Linked DNA regions of Homo sapiens. Each later gene encodes a partner of the first gene's protein in a complex. Each region holds a gene or a part of one and is shown in the gene's direction. Other genes may lie near its edges.

The links. The genes of interacting proteins can lie anywhere in the genome.
Region 2: the proteins of GNA13 (region 1) and GPR35 are in contact, whole or in part, in a cryo-EM structure (PDB 8H8J), measured with the Homo sapiens proteins. Residues at the interface, in NP_006563.2 of Homo sapiens: Lys46, Arg47, Leu48, Val49, Lys214, Asn215, Val216, Phe218, Arg331, Gln337, Gln338, Lys340, Pro341, Leu342, Tyr343, Phe359, Arg360, Asp361, Lys363, Asp364, Ile366, Leu367, His368, Asn370, Leu371, Lys372, Gln373, Leu374, Met375, Leu376; in NP_005292.2 of Homo sapiens: Phe45 (codon at 2,850), Gln51 (codon at 2,868), Thr53 (codon at 2,874), Thr55 (codon at 2,880), Met59 (codon at 2,892), Asp113 (codon at 3,054), Arg114 (codon at 3,057), Ala117 (codon at 3,066), Val118 (codon at 3,069), Pro121 (codon at 3,078), Leu122 (codon at 3,081), Arg123 (codon at 3,084), Arg125 (codon at 3,090), Arg128 (codon at 3,099), Ala197 (codon at 3,306), Leu198 (codon at 3,309), Arg201 (codon at 3,318), Pro202 (codon at 3,321), Thr204 (codon at 3,327), Asp205 (codon at 3,330), Gly207 (codon at 3,336), Gln208 (codon at 3,339), Ala211 (codon at 3,348), Ala215 (codon at 3,360), Met218 (codon at 3,369), Val219 (codon at 3,372), Ala280 (codon at 3,555), Lys281 (codon at 3,558), Glu282 (codon at 3,561).

The regions. Positions count from the first base shown.
Region 1 is NC_000017.11:65,007,230-65,012,561, reverse strand, and holds the end of GNA13 (guanine nucleotide-binding protein subunit alpha-13), read left to right. Parts: 3' UTR 1-3,273; downstream 3,274-5,332. UniProt on the Homo sapiens protein: Guanine nucleotide-binding proteins (G proteins) are involved as modulators or transducers in various transmembrane signaling systems.
Region 2 is NC_000002.12:240,627,236-240,634,795, forward strand, and holds the end of GPR35 (G-protein coupled receptor 35), read left to right. Parts: intron 1-2,713; coding exon of another isoform or gene 2,714-2,717; coding exon 2,718-3,647; 3' UTR 3,648-5,924; downstream 5,925-7,560. UniProt on the Homo sapiens protein: G-protein coupled receptor that binds to several ligands including the tryptophan metabolite kynurenic acid (KYNA), lysophosphatidic acid (LPA) or 5-hydroxyindoleacetic acid (5-HIAA) with high affinity, leading to rapid and transient activation of numerous intracellular signaling pathways.

The DNA.
Region 1 (5,332 bases):
ACTTCTAGCATTTTCATGCCATGGTAATCCATGAGCTACACATACGTAGCCCGGCACCGTGATGCAAGTTCATGGTATCGTGCATGTTCGTGGTATCATGGTATCATTCATGCGTGTTTGAATAGTTCTACATCTAGTGCTTCTTGCCAAAAAGAATACATTGTTTAAATTCACAAAATTAGCATAATTGCAGTGCTAATGAATATCGGAATATGTGCACAGTAACATTTGGACTATTCATTGGAGAGTTTACCCATACATTTAGCAAATTGAATGGCCAAAACATTTGACTCCAGTGAGGGCTCAAGTTAGATCCCTATAGAAAGAGGACACTTCATCTTACTTAAGTCATAGTTAAGATCTGTGATACGAACCATAGATATTGCCTGACAAAGCAGAAATCACCAAGTTTCCCCCTTTTGAATTACCACCAAGAAGTGTTGAAACACCAAATAGATATCATGTTATTTTGGGCATTTGCAGTTTTCTTCCCTGCTGCATGTAATGTCTCAGAATCAACATTCTTTTAAAATCTAGACTATATTTTGAGGCAATGAATTACTTATATTCAACTTAGGCTTGTTTTGACATTCAGTAGAACTTTAAGTTCAATCTAAAGGCTTCAGTCCACATTTTTTTATACGTTGTATTTTAAAAACGTTTGAAAGGAGTCTTACACCTGTATCATGAAAACTGAATCCTTTTGAAATACCACTATATGAAGAGAGAGATGAAATTTAGTGAACAGAATTGAAAAGGTGCTCATAATTTCACTATGCAAACTTACCCCAGTCTCTAAAAAAGTAATTTAGATTTAAAGTTCTTTGATGTATTTGATTTTCTAAATCTTTATGGTTATGATTTGGAATAAAATGTGCCTAATCCTGTGTTACATTCTGTTCTTAAATCTGAATGCCTTCTCATTTAATTCTGAGGAAATATCACACAAGTGTCTTCATTGACCTTGAAGAAATGTATATACAGTTGCCTTATAAAACAACATAAATTTAGACCATAACTTTTATAGAGAAAGGGTTTTGTCAAATGTTTTCTGAAAATCTGAGTAATTCAAAGCATGCCTCTGCCCCTTTAATATTTTTAATAACCTGCATTGTTGCTGTCTGCCAAATATTAAATTGAAATCTTCATTTCAATTTTATTATCTGGAAAGGGCACTGGATTGCTCTGCAACCAAAGAAAGCAATATGGAATGAAAAAACTCATTCACTTTTGTCTTATTTTCTTTTAAGGTGTATTGGCATGTAATTTGCATAGAGAAGGTCCTCTGGTTAGTCTCTCAAATTGAGGCTGTTTAGGGAAATCCTTATTCAGTTGGTGGCAGTGGTTGGTTTAAAGTAGAAGGAAATAAGATCGCCTTAATACCAGAAATGATTAGAAGTGCTGATTTAGATTCAACAAATACCATATGTCCTTATCATTTTTTGTAAGAAGAAATTGGTTAAGTCCTAACTTTCAATGTGTACCCAAATACTTGTATTTATGCTTTTGATAAAATGTATTTTCAGCATTAATACACATCCGATTATGCCTTATTTATATATGAAGAATAAAGTTACCATGTTACACTGTTATGTCCTAAAATTCAAATCACTATTTGAGAAACCCTCAAATTGGTGCTTTCATTATATAATGATACATTTAGACAAAACCCCAAACTAAGCCATTTGAAACAAGATTCTCTCCATTGCAGTTTGTAGCAATGTTATTTCTGTGTATGTCATGAGAAGGCTAAATATCAGTGTTAATTTCTTGTTTGAATCCGTGAAATCATGCCTGTAAAGCCCAAACATTTGTAACAAACTCCCTAATAAATTTAGAGAAAGTCACTCTGTTACCATTTCATTTATTTTAGTTTTATTTGAGAAATTAAGACCAGAAGTTTTGCTCATGTCTTTTTCACTTGGAAATCTGACTTAGTACCTAGTTAATTTGTCTCTCTCCCATCATTTTAAGGCGTTCGCTTCTGTTAATCACAGATGATCTGTCCTTGTGTTGTGCTGCTTGACTAAAAGCACTGTTTTGTTTTGTTTTGTTTTGTTTTTTAATGATAGGATACAGGGTGGCTTTTCAGTCTAGTAAACATGAGGAGGGGAGAGATTGTGGGTGGGTGTGGGTGTGTCCGCATGTCCCAAATACAGCACATGCCCATTTTTTTATGGTACGAGGTTAGGGCTTATTAATAAATGTATACTAGATCTTGAAGTGTAAGTCTAAGTCTGAACATTTTAAACAAGTTGGACTTTATGGCTTTTTCAAGTTCCATCAAGTAGATACTAGTCTTAGGCTGGTAGGTGATTAACAACATCATTTGGAGTACAGTGTTTGTACCACTAGCATTCTTATGTCTGTACTTGAACGTGTAGTTAGCATTTAAGTTATGTTCACTCTTGTAGCATTCAGGTCTTACCATCTGGTTTCAAATGCGAGAGCTTATATGAACATTGTTTTGAAAGCATGAATGATATGGCAATATTTTATGTCTTGATAAGGAGAGTTTTGTGACATATACAAATCTGCTGTTGATGATGAAAGTTTACAGGTGGATCAGAGTATGCTGGAACTCAGTGTGCATAAAATTTCAGTCAGTGAATATCACTGAACGTCATATACTACTTGGTATGTGACTTTGGTTTGTGTTAAGAAAGCTTGTATATAATATTTTTTGCCATAGTAAGTGAGAAATTGTCCTTAATCATGCCTGTTTGATGGTACTAGGAAAGAAAGGGGTAGAGATTAATTCTTGCACAGTATAAGCAACAGTGCAACAAACTATGCCATTTACCTTTTACCTCTTACTTGAAGGCAGAATCGCAAAACGTTTGAAATGGCTTTTCTAAACTACTCTACTCTGGTGAGAGCTCATTTACCACAAGAAGCCTTATAAAAAAGTATATTTTGTAATAACCCCGTAGATACTGTACCTAACAAAACATGACTCGTATTAGCTCTATAAAATATTTGTGGCTTAGGATTTTTTTTTTACATATATCTTTTTATAACTTTCCAGGAACTAAGCACATTATCTGATAATTGTTGTAAATTTTTTTGTCAGTGCTTTAGTTCAGGATGGGCAATAAATTATTTCTAAAGGAGGTCTAAAAGTGGAAAGAATGGTTTGATTTTATAAAATGAGTTGCTAGTTCATTACAGCTTTTTACTTTTGTACATATTTTGCAAAACATTTGCCTCTTGCTATTAATATTTGCTTTGTAAAAATTACTGACATTTAATAAACATTTGTAAACAATTCAATACTATGATGTTATTTAACAGTTTGGTAATTGTAAAATGTAAAGCAGATACTAAAAGTTTGAAAGCAAAAGTTTCATCTAGGGCCTGAGTTAAGGCACAAATCTACTTCAGCAGAATCCCAATGCCACTTGGCTTGAATATTAGTCTAGAAACTTCTTACTAGAAATGGAGATGTGGACTTCTTCCAAGGAAGTTCTCAGACACTTAATATGTTTTGACAAGGGAATAGGGGAAGAGAAACCACTTGTTTTCTCTGCTCCTCTTATGGCCACTGAAACTGTATTAGGGTGTACCTGAGCTCAGTTCATCCAGCTGCGACAATATTAATAATTCTGTTACGTCTGTTGTAATTAATGTTTGGAGACAAACCAACATTGACCACTCATCTTTTTTAAAAAAATAAACTTCATGTTAGATTATGATTTACAGAAAAATTTCAAGACAGTACAGAGTTCCCCTATACTCCACACCCCTTATAATAGTTCCCGTAGTTACCGCCTTGCATTACTTTGGTACATTTGTCATAATTAATGAACCAATACTGATAACATTATTCACTAAAGCCCATGCTTTGTTCTTGTTTCCTTAGTTTTCCCCTAATGCCTTACTTGTGTTCCAGGATCCATCCAGCACACGACATTACATTCGCTCGTCATGTCTCCTTCAGCTCTTCTTGGTAGTTAACAGACTCCTGTTTATCTCAGACTTTGTTTTTGATTACTTTGGCAGGTGTTTTTTGTTTGTTTTTTCTTTTTGAGACAGGGTCTCACTCCTTTGTCACCCAGGCTGGAGTGCAGTGGCCCGATCTCAGCTCACTGCAACCCCCACCTCCCAGGTTCAAGTGATTCTCCTGCCTCAGCCACCCAAGTAGCTGGGATTACAGGTGCGTGCCACCACACCCAGCTACTTTTTGTATTTTTAGTAGAGACAGAGTTTCGCCATGTTGCCCAGGCTGGTCTGGAACTCCTGAGCTCAAGCGATTTGCCTGCTTCGGTCTCCCAAATTGCTGGGATTAGAGGCTTGAGGACTTTGGCAGTTTTGAGGAGTACTGGTCAGGTATTTTGTAGAATGCCCATCTGTTGAAATTTGGTGTTTTTCACATGATTAGACTGGGTTATGGGTCTGGGAACCAGAGAGAGAAAGTATCATTATCAAATCGTGTCAAGCACACCTTCTGTGGTTACTACTCATCTTTTCCCTTTACGCTTTCCTGCTAAGTTAGCAGTTGTCAAATCACTTGGCATCTTTATGCCTTTTCTTACCTGGCATGTATTGAAAGCTATGGCTGGGCGTGGTGGCTCACGCTTGTAATCCCAGCACTTTGGGAGGCCAAGGCTGGCGGATCACTTGAGCTCACGAGTTTGAAACCAGCCTGGGCAACATGGTGAAATCCCGTCTTTACAAAAATTAGGTGGGCATGGTGGCATGGGCCTGTAGTCCCCCAGCTACTCGGGAGGCCGTGGAAGTTGCAGTGAGCCAAGATCGCGCCACTGCACTCCAGCCCGGGTGATAGATCCAGACCTTGTCTCTAAGTAAATAGATAGACAGACAGATAGATAAAGCTGTGCTTGTACTGTTCTTCCCCTAAACAGAATGAAGGGCTTTCTCTTGGTGTTGCAAAGCAGGTGTGAGGAAATGGCTGGAGGTAATGGCTGGCTGTGCTCCTAGCTGCTCTGGTTCCAACCTCTCTGGCAAATAAAAATTCTTCTCCAGGTTCTCACCTCTAACATGAAATGTTACTGTTGATCTCAAGAGAAACTGGGTTAGAAAATTTGGACTTTGAGTCTAACTCTTAACATCTAAAAATCTGTGACTTTGGAAACAGGTCTTTCTGGGAGAGATTTAAGATCTTTAAAAATTGAAACTAGACTCACTTGAGCATTTGAATCCCCAAACAAACCAAGAGGTCATTTAAAAAACAAAAACACCTTTTTTATGCTGTTGTTGGAACAAGGGAATATTTATCTGTGTAAAAAGAAACAATACAAACTATTGTGTAGCAAAGTGGGCACAATCCTGGTTAATTGGCACTGTGGGATGTCATGTCAGTACAGGATGC
Region 2 (7,560 bases), on another chromosome or scaffold:
TGCTGGCCATGTTAGCTCCCAGGGGCCCCATGCCATCTGGGCTAAAGCCTGGGCCTTGATTTCCTGAACTTTTCTGGGAGGCACTCCACGGGCGAGACAAGGACCCATGAACAGGGCACTTCTTCGAAGCCTACGTGCACCTCGAAACTCTTGCAACATTTGCATTTTTCTCCCTAATAGTTCAGTGTTTGTTTTATTATAAACAGGAAAATTTAAATGTTGTAGTTAGAGTTTTTTTCTTCTTCTTAGAGATGGGGTTTCACTCTGTCTCCTAAGGCTGGAGTGCAGTGGTGGGATCATAGCTCACTTCAGCCTCAACCTCCTGGGCTCAAGCCGTCTTCCTGCCTCAGCCTCCCGAGTAGCACGCATCACCAGCCCAGCTAATTTTCTGTCTTTTTTTTTTTTTTTTTTTTTTTTTTTGTAGAGACGGGGTCTCCCTGTGATGCCCAGGTTGTTCTTAAACTTCTGGCCTCAAGTCATCCTCCTGTCTCAGCCTCCCAAAGTGTTGGGATTACAGGCATGAGCCACCGTGCCTGCCTGCAGTTAAACATTCCCCCACAAAATACTGGGCCACACCGAGGCTAGTATGAAAGTTGCAGCCCTGGGTATGTGTGACCTGAGAGCCCCTTGGCAGCCATGGGGAGCGATGGGGGAAGCTGGGGCAATGGGAAGGGGTCTAGGCACACGAGCCCTCGGGTCCTCACCTCCCACGAGGCAGGGTCCCAGGCTGCCTCTACTCAAGGTGGGGCAGCAAAAGAATCGCCCTCTAGCTGTGCAGACCCCCTCCCCCTCCAGGTCTGCACACCGCCCAAGGCTGGCCCTGGACTTCTGGTGGATTCAAGTACTCAGGTGGGGAGAGTAGGAGGCCAGTCGCACGGAGCCCTCCCCAACGCACAGTGCCTGCCCAGCTCAGGTGCCTCTGAGGTGTAGATTCTGAGCAGGTTCTGGGATCTCCTGGCCCCCAGCGGGGGCTGCCACAGGAGTATAGGCCCAACAGGAAGGGAAGATCCCAGCGATTGGTTCCAGTGGGTTCTGGGGATGTCCTCGGAGCCTGGCCTGGCTCAGGGTCCCTCCAAAAGTCCCTGGAACGAGGGTGAAGTGTTGCTCATGAATCAGAGAGAAAGCAAGCAGGACCCTCAAGAAGGGAGGAGAGAGACCACTGGGCGTGCAGCACTTTGCACTCGGGGGAAGGGCTCCTGAAACTTGGAAGTCAGCAAATATCTGCTGTACTTCACCAGAGGTGGGATCTAAGGAGACAGAATGAAGCCAGGGGGCAGAATGTTTCGTTTCTGTCTGAAACCTGTGCCCTCCATCCCTCATGGACTGGGGACCTGGAGTTCCCGGGGACCACCGTGGGGAAATGCGTCCCAGCACTAATGGTCCCCAGCAGCTGCAGTCACGGGGTTTGGGCGCTCTCCCCTCCTGATTTGGGGGACCTTTTGTGCTCCTCTGGGCAGAGGGAGGAGGCAGAGGGAGGAGGAAGGCCCTTCGCTGTGGGCTGAGTCCTTCCCACCTTCCATACCAGCCCAGCAGGAAGCCACTGCAGGATGCCCCAGAGGACAGCCTGATGGTTGGGGGAGAGGCTTCTCCCGCCCTCACCCCTCCGGGTTCTTCCTGGACCCACTGAGTAACCCAGGTGGTGGGACGTGTGGCTGTGAGTCCTGGACTCTGGGCGCTCACCAGCAGCTCCGTCTCACACCTGCCTGCGTGTGACACCAGCACCCCTTATGATGAGGAAACAAGTTTGCCCAGCTGCAGGGGTGGCCGAGTCAGGATGACTCTAGCCCGTGTCCTGGACACCAGACCCTGCCCAGGTCCAGCCGGGGCTGGTCTCAGCCTTCCTGGGCTATGTCGCGGAGGGTGTTGGGGACAGCGAGAGGCTGGCGTGGACAGTGGAGGGGTGACTTTGTGGGTGGTCCTGATAGTGACGGAGAGGAGGATACTCAGCTCCACCCCTGGGCGGCCCCTGAGCAGCACGACTGGGCCTGAAGGGGCAGGGCTGCCGTCACAGGCTCTGGCCCCTGGGAGCTCAAGGGGTGAATCCCTGATCCCAGGTGTGGGACTGGGATGGGGCCTCAGGCTGATGCAGGCAGGACCTCCAGAGCTCAGGACTGGGTGGGTGGGCTCACAGGGAGGTAGGGGCAGGCCAGAGTCCCAGCTGTCCTGGACTCTGCTGTGGGGAAGGGCTGATGCAGGTGTGGAGTCAAATGTGGGTGCCTCCTGCAGCCGGGTGCCAGGAGGGGTGGAGGGGCCACCCTGGGCTTTGTCCGGGAGCCTGGTCTTCCCGTCCTTGGGCTGACAGGTGCTGCTGCCTCTGAGCCCTCCCTGCTAAGAGCTGTGTGCTGGGTAAGGCTGGTGGCCCTTTGGGCTCCCTGTCCAGGATTTGCGCTCTGGAGGGTAGGGCTTGCTGGGCTGGGGACTGGAGGGGAACGTGGAGCTCCTTCTGCCTCCTTTCCTGCCCCATGACAGCAGGCAGATCCCAGGAGAGAAGAGCTCAGGAGATGGGAAGAGGATCTGTCCAGGGGTTAGACCTCAAGGGTGACTTGGAGTTCTTTACGGCACCCATGCTTTCTTTGAGGAGTTTTGTGTTTGTGGGTGTGGGGTCGGGGCTCACCTCCTCCCACATCCCTGCCCAGAGGTGGGCAGAGTGGGGGCAGTGCCTTGCTCCCCCTGCTCACTCTCTGCTGACCTCCGGCTCCCTGTGCTGCCCCAGGACCATGAATGGCACCTACAACACCTGTGGCTCCAGCGACCTCACCTGGCCCCCAGCGATCAAGCTGGGCTTCTACGCCTACTTGGGCGTCCTGCTGGTGCTAGGCCTGCTGCTCAACAGCCTGGCGCTCTGGGTGTTCTGCTGCCGCATGCAGCAGTGGACGGAGACCCGCATCTACATGACCAACCTGGCGGTGGCCGACCTCTGCCTGCTGTGCACCTTGCCCTTCGTGCTGCACTCCCTGCGAGACACCTCAGACACGCCGCTGTGCCAGCTCTCCCAGGGCATCTACCTGACCAACAGGTACATGAGCATCAGCCTGGTCACGGCCATCGCCGTGGACCGCTATGTGGCCGTGCGGCACCCGCTGCGTGCCCGCGGGCTGCGGTCCCCCAGGCAGGCTGCGGCCGTGTGCGCGGTCCTCTGGGTGCTGGTCATCGGCTCCCTGGTGGCTCGCTGGCTCCTGGGGATTCAGGAGGGCGGCTTCTGCTTCAGGAGCACCCGGCACAATTTCAACTCCATGGCGTTCCCGCTGCTGGGATTCTACCTGCCCCTGGCCGTGGTGGTCTTCTGCTCCCTGAAGGTGGTGACTGCCCTGGCCCAGAGGCCACCCACCGACGTGGGGCAGGCAGAGGCCACCCGCAAGGCTGCCCGCATGGTCTGGGCCAACCTCCTGGTGTTCGTGGTCTGCTTCCTGCCCCTGCACGTGGGGCTGACAGTGCGCCTCGCAGTGGGCTGGAACGCCTGTGCCCTCCTGGAGACGATCCGTCGCGCCCTGTACATAACCAGCAAGCTCTCAGATGCCAACTGCTGCCTGGACGCCATCTGCTACTACTACATGGCCAAGGAGTTCCAGGAGGCGTCTGCACTGGCCGTGGCTCCCAGTGCTAAGGCCCACAAAAGCCAGGACTCTCTGTGCGTGACCCTCGCCTAAGAGGCGTGCTGTGGGCGCTGTGGGCCAGGTCTCGGGGGCTCCGGGAGGTGCTGCCTGCCAGGGGAAGCTGGAACCAGTAGCAAGGAGCCCGAGATCAGCCCTGAACTCACTGTGTATTCTCTTGGAGCCTTGGGTGGGCAGGGACGGCCCAGGTACCTGCTCTCTTGGGAAGAGAGAGGGACAGGGACAAGGGCAAGAGGACTGAGGCCAGAGCAAGGCCAATGTCAGAGACCCCCGGGATGGGGCCTCACACTTGCCACCCCCAGAACCAGCTCACCTGGCCAGAGTGGGTTCCTGCTGGCCAGGGTGCAGCCTTGATGACACCTGCCGCTGCCCCTCGGGGCTGGAATAAAACTCCCCACCCAGAGTCAGTCCTAGTGGGGCCCTCTGTGTTTCGCACTCGTGTGGTGGGAGGCAGGGAGGGAGCGCGTGGCTCAGAGGGCTGGCGGACATCTTCCAGGGACCCTTCGGGGCTCTTCACTTTGAGGTCCCCCTTGGACCCTTTCACCCCTTCCCACCCCCACCCACCTGGAGCGTGAGCAGGGGCTGTTGGAAGCTCCTGGCAGGACCACAGTAGAGGCCCCCAGCCCAGGTTTCCTTGCTCAAGACAGGGCTGGGAGCAGCTGATCTCCATGTAGGGGCTGCACAGCGGTGCAAGGGGGGGTGACCAAGGTCAAGCAGGTGAGGGTGGGTTGGGGTGGGTGGCAGTGAAGGGGGTGGCCAGGGTCTGTCAAGGAACCCAGCCCTCTTCTCCTTCCTTCAGGGAAAGGCTGGAAACCATGTCTGGCAGGGGCAGGGGTTGGGTGCCCACTCAGGTAAAGGCACGATGTCCTGCTGGTTTCTGCCTCTCCTGTACTCCTGCATGGAGGGCATCTCGAAACCCAAGCTGGAAGGACAGGGCACTCCAGAGACCTCCTGTGAGTGTGGGCCAGCACGGCCTGGGCTCAAACCCCATCCTGTCATCCCATATTGCATGTCCACAGGCACCGCCCCACCCTGTTCCATGTTCCACAGGACTGGAGAGAGATGGCAGTCATGTTCTGGCAGGGACATGGCACAAGCATGCGGCTGATGGCATCTCACAGGACCCAGGCTCCGGAGGGCCCATGCCCAGGAGAGCCCCATAAGGGCTCTGTGCCTAAAAGGGTGCATGCCCAGGTGGGCCCATGCCCAGGAAGGTCCATGCCCAGGATGGTCCATGAGCAGGAGGGCCTCATTCCCAGGAGGGTCCCGTGCCCAGGAGGGCTCTATGCCCAAAAGGGTCCCATGTCCGGGAGGGTCCATACGCAAGGGTGTCCATGCCTGGTTGGGGGGGGTCTATGTCCAGGAGGGTCCCATGCCTGGAAGGGTCCATGCTCAGGAGGGTTCATGCCCAGGAGAGTTTATGCCCTGGAGGGCCCCATGCCCGGGAGAGTCACGTGCACAGAGGGCCCTGTGCTCAGGAGGATACATGTCCAGGAGTGTCCCTGTCCAGGAGGCTCCATGCCCAGGAGGCTCCATGTCAAGAAAGATTCATGCCTAGGAGGGTTCATGCCCAGGAGTGTCCCTGCCTAGGAAGATCCATTACCAGAAGGGCCCATGTCAAGGAGCGTTCATGCCCAGGAAGGTCCAGCCCAGGAGGGTCCATGTCAAGGAGGTTCCATGCCCAGGAGGGTCCATGCTGAGGTGGGTCCATGCCCAGGAGGGTTCATGTCCAGAAAGGTCCATGCCTAGGAGGGCCCATACACAACAGAGCCCTGTGCCCAGGAAGGACCATGTCAAGGAGAACCCCATGCCCATGAGGGTCCATGCCCAGTAAGGGCCATGCCCATGAGATCCTCATGCCCAGGAAGGCCCATGCCCAGGAGGGTCCATGCCCAGGCCAGTTCATGCACAGGAGGGCCCCATGCCTAAAAGTGTCCATGCCCAGGAAGGTCCATGTCCAGAAGAGTCCATACCCAGGAGGGCTGATATGGTTAGGCTTTGTGTCTCCACCCAAATCTCATCTTGAATTGTAATCCCTATAATAACCATAGTCCCCATGTGTCAAGGGAGAGACCAGGTGGAGGCAATTGGATCATGGGGGCTGTTTCCCACATGCTGTTCTCATGATAGTGAGTGAGTTCTCATGAGATCTGATGGTTTTATAAGGGGCTCTTCCCTTCACTTCTCCTTCCTACTGTCTTATGAAGAAGGTTCCTTGCTTCCCCTTCACCTTCTGCCATGATTGTAAGTTTCCTGAGGCCTCCCTAGCCATGCTGAAGTGTGAGTCAATTAAACCTCTTTCCTTTAAAATTACCCAGTCTTGGGCAGTTCTTTATAACAGTATGAAAACAGACGAATGCAGTAAATTGGTACCACAGAGAGTGGGGTGCTGCTGTAAAGATACCCAAAAATGTCGAAGCAACTTTGGAACCGGGTAATAGTCAGAGGTTGGAACAGTTTGGAGGGCTCAGAAGAAGACAGAAAGATGTGGGAAAGTATGGAACTTCCTAGAGACTTGTTGAATGGCTTTGATCAAAATGCTGATAGGGATATGGACAATGAATTCCAGGTTGAGGTGGTCTCAGATGGAGATGAGGAATTTGCTGGAAACTGGAATAAAGGTGATTCTTGCTATGCTTTAGCAAAGAGATTGGCAGCATTTTGCCCCTGCCTTAGAGATCTGTGGAACTTTGAATGTGAGAGAGATGATTTAGGGTATCTGGCAGAAGAAATTTCTAAGCAGCAAAGCATTCAAGAGTGCTCTTAAAAGCATTCAATTTTATGCATTCACAAAGAGATGATTTGGAATTGGAACTCACATTTAAAAGGGAAGCAGAGCATAAAAGTTTAGAAAATTTGCATCCTGACTATGGGATAGAAAAGAAAAACTCATTTTCTGAGGAGAAATTCAAGCCAGCTGCAGAAATTTGCATAAGTAACTAGGAGCCACATGTTAATAGCATAGACAATGAGGGAAATGTCTCCAGGGCATGTCAGAGGTCTTCACAGCAACCCCACCCATCACAGGCCTGGAGGCTTAGGAGGAAAAAATGGTTTTGTCGTTGGGGCCCAGGGCCTTGCTGGTTTGTGCAGTCTCAGGACTTGGTGCCCCACATCCCAGCAGTGGCTAAAAGGGGCCAATGTACAGCTTAGACCTTTGCTTCAGAGGTGCAAGCCCCAAGCCTTGGTGGCTTACATGTGGTGTTGGGCCTGCAGATACACAGAAGTTTGCTGCACTGGTGGAACCCTCATGTAGAACCTCTGCTAGGGCAGTGTAGAAGTGATATGTGGGGTTGGAGCCCCCCCACACAATCCCCACTGGGGCACTGCCTACTGCTACTGGAACTGTGAGAAGAAGGCCACCATCCTCCAGACCCTAGAATGGTAGATCCACTGATGGCTTGAACCATGCACCTGGAAAAGCCACAGACACTCAACACCAGCCTGTGAAGGCAGCTGGAAGGGAGGCTGTACCCTGAAAAACAACAGAGGCAGAGCTGCCCAAGGTCATGGGAGCCCACCTCTTGCATGAGCCTGACTTGAATGTGAGACATGGAGTCAAAGGAGATCATTTTGGAGCTTTAAGTTTTGACTGCCCACCTGGATTTCGGACTTGCATGGGGCCTGTGGCCCCTTCATTTTGGCCAATTTATCCCATTTGGAATGGGTATATTTACCCAATGCCTGTACCCCCATTCTATCTAGGATATAACTAACTTGCTTTTGATTTTATAGGTTTGTAGGCAGAAGGGACTTACCTTGTCTCAGATGACACTTTGGTCTTGGACTTTTGGGTTAATGCTGGAATGAATTAAGACTTTGGGGGACTTTTGGGAAGGCATGACTGGTTTTGAAATGTAAAAGAGACATGAGATTCGGAAGGGGCTAGGAGCAGAATGGTATAATTAGGCTTTGTGTCCCCACCCAAATCTCATCTTGAATTGCAGTC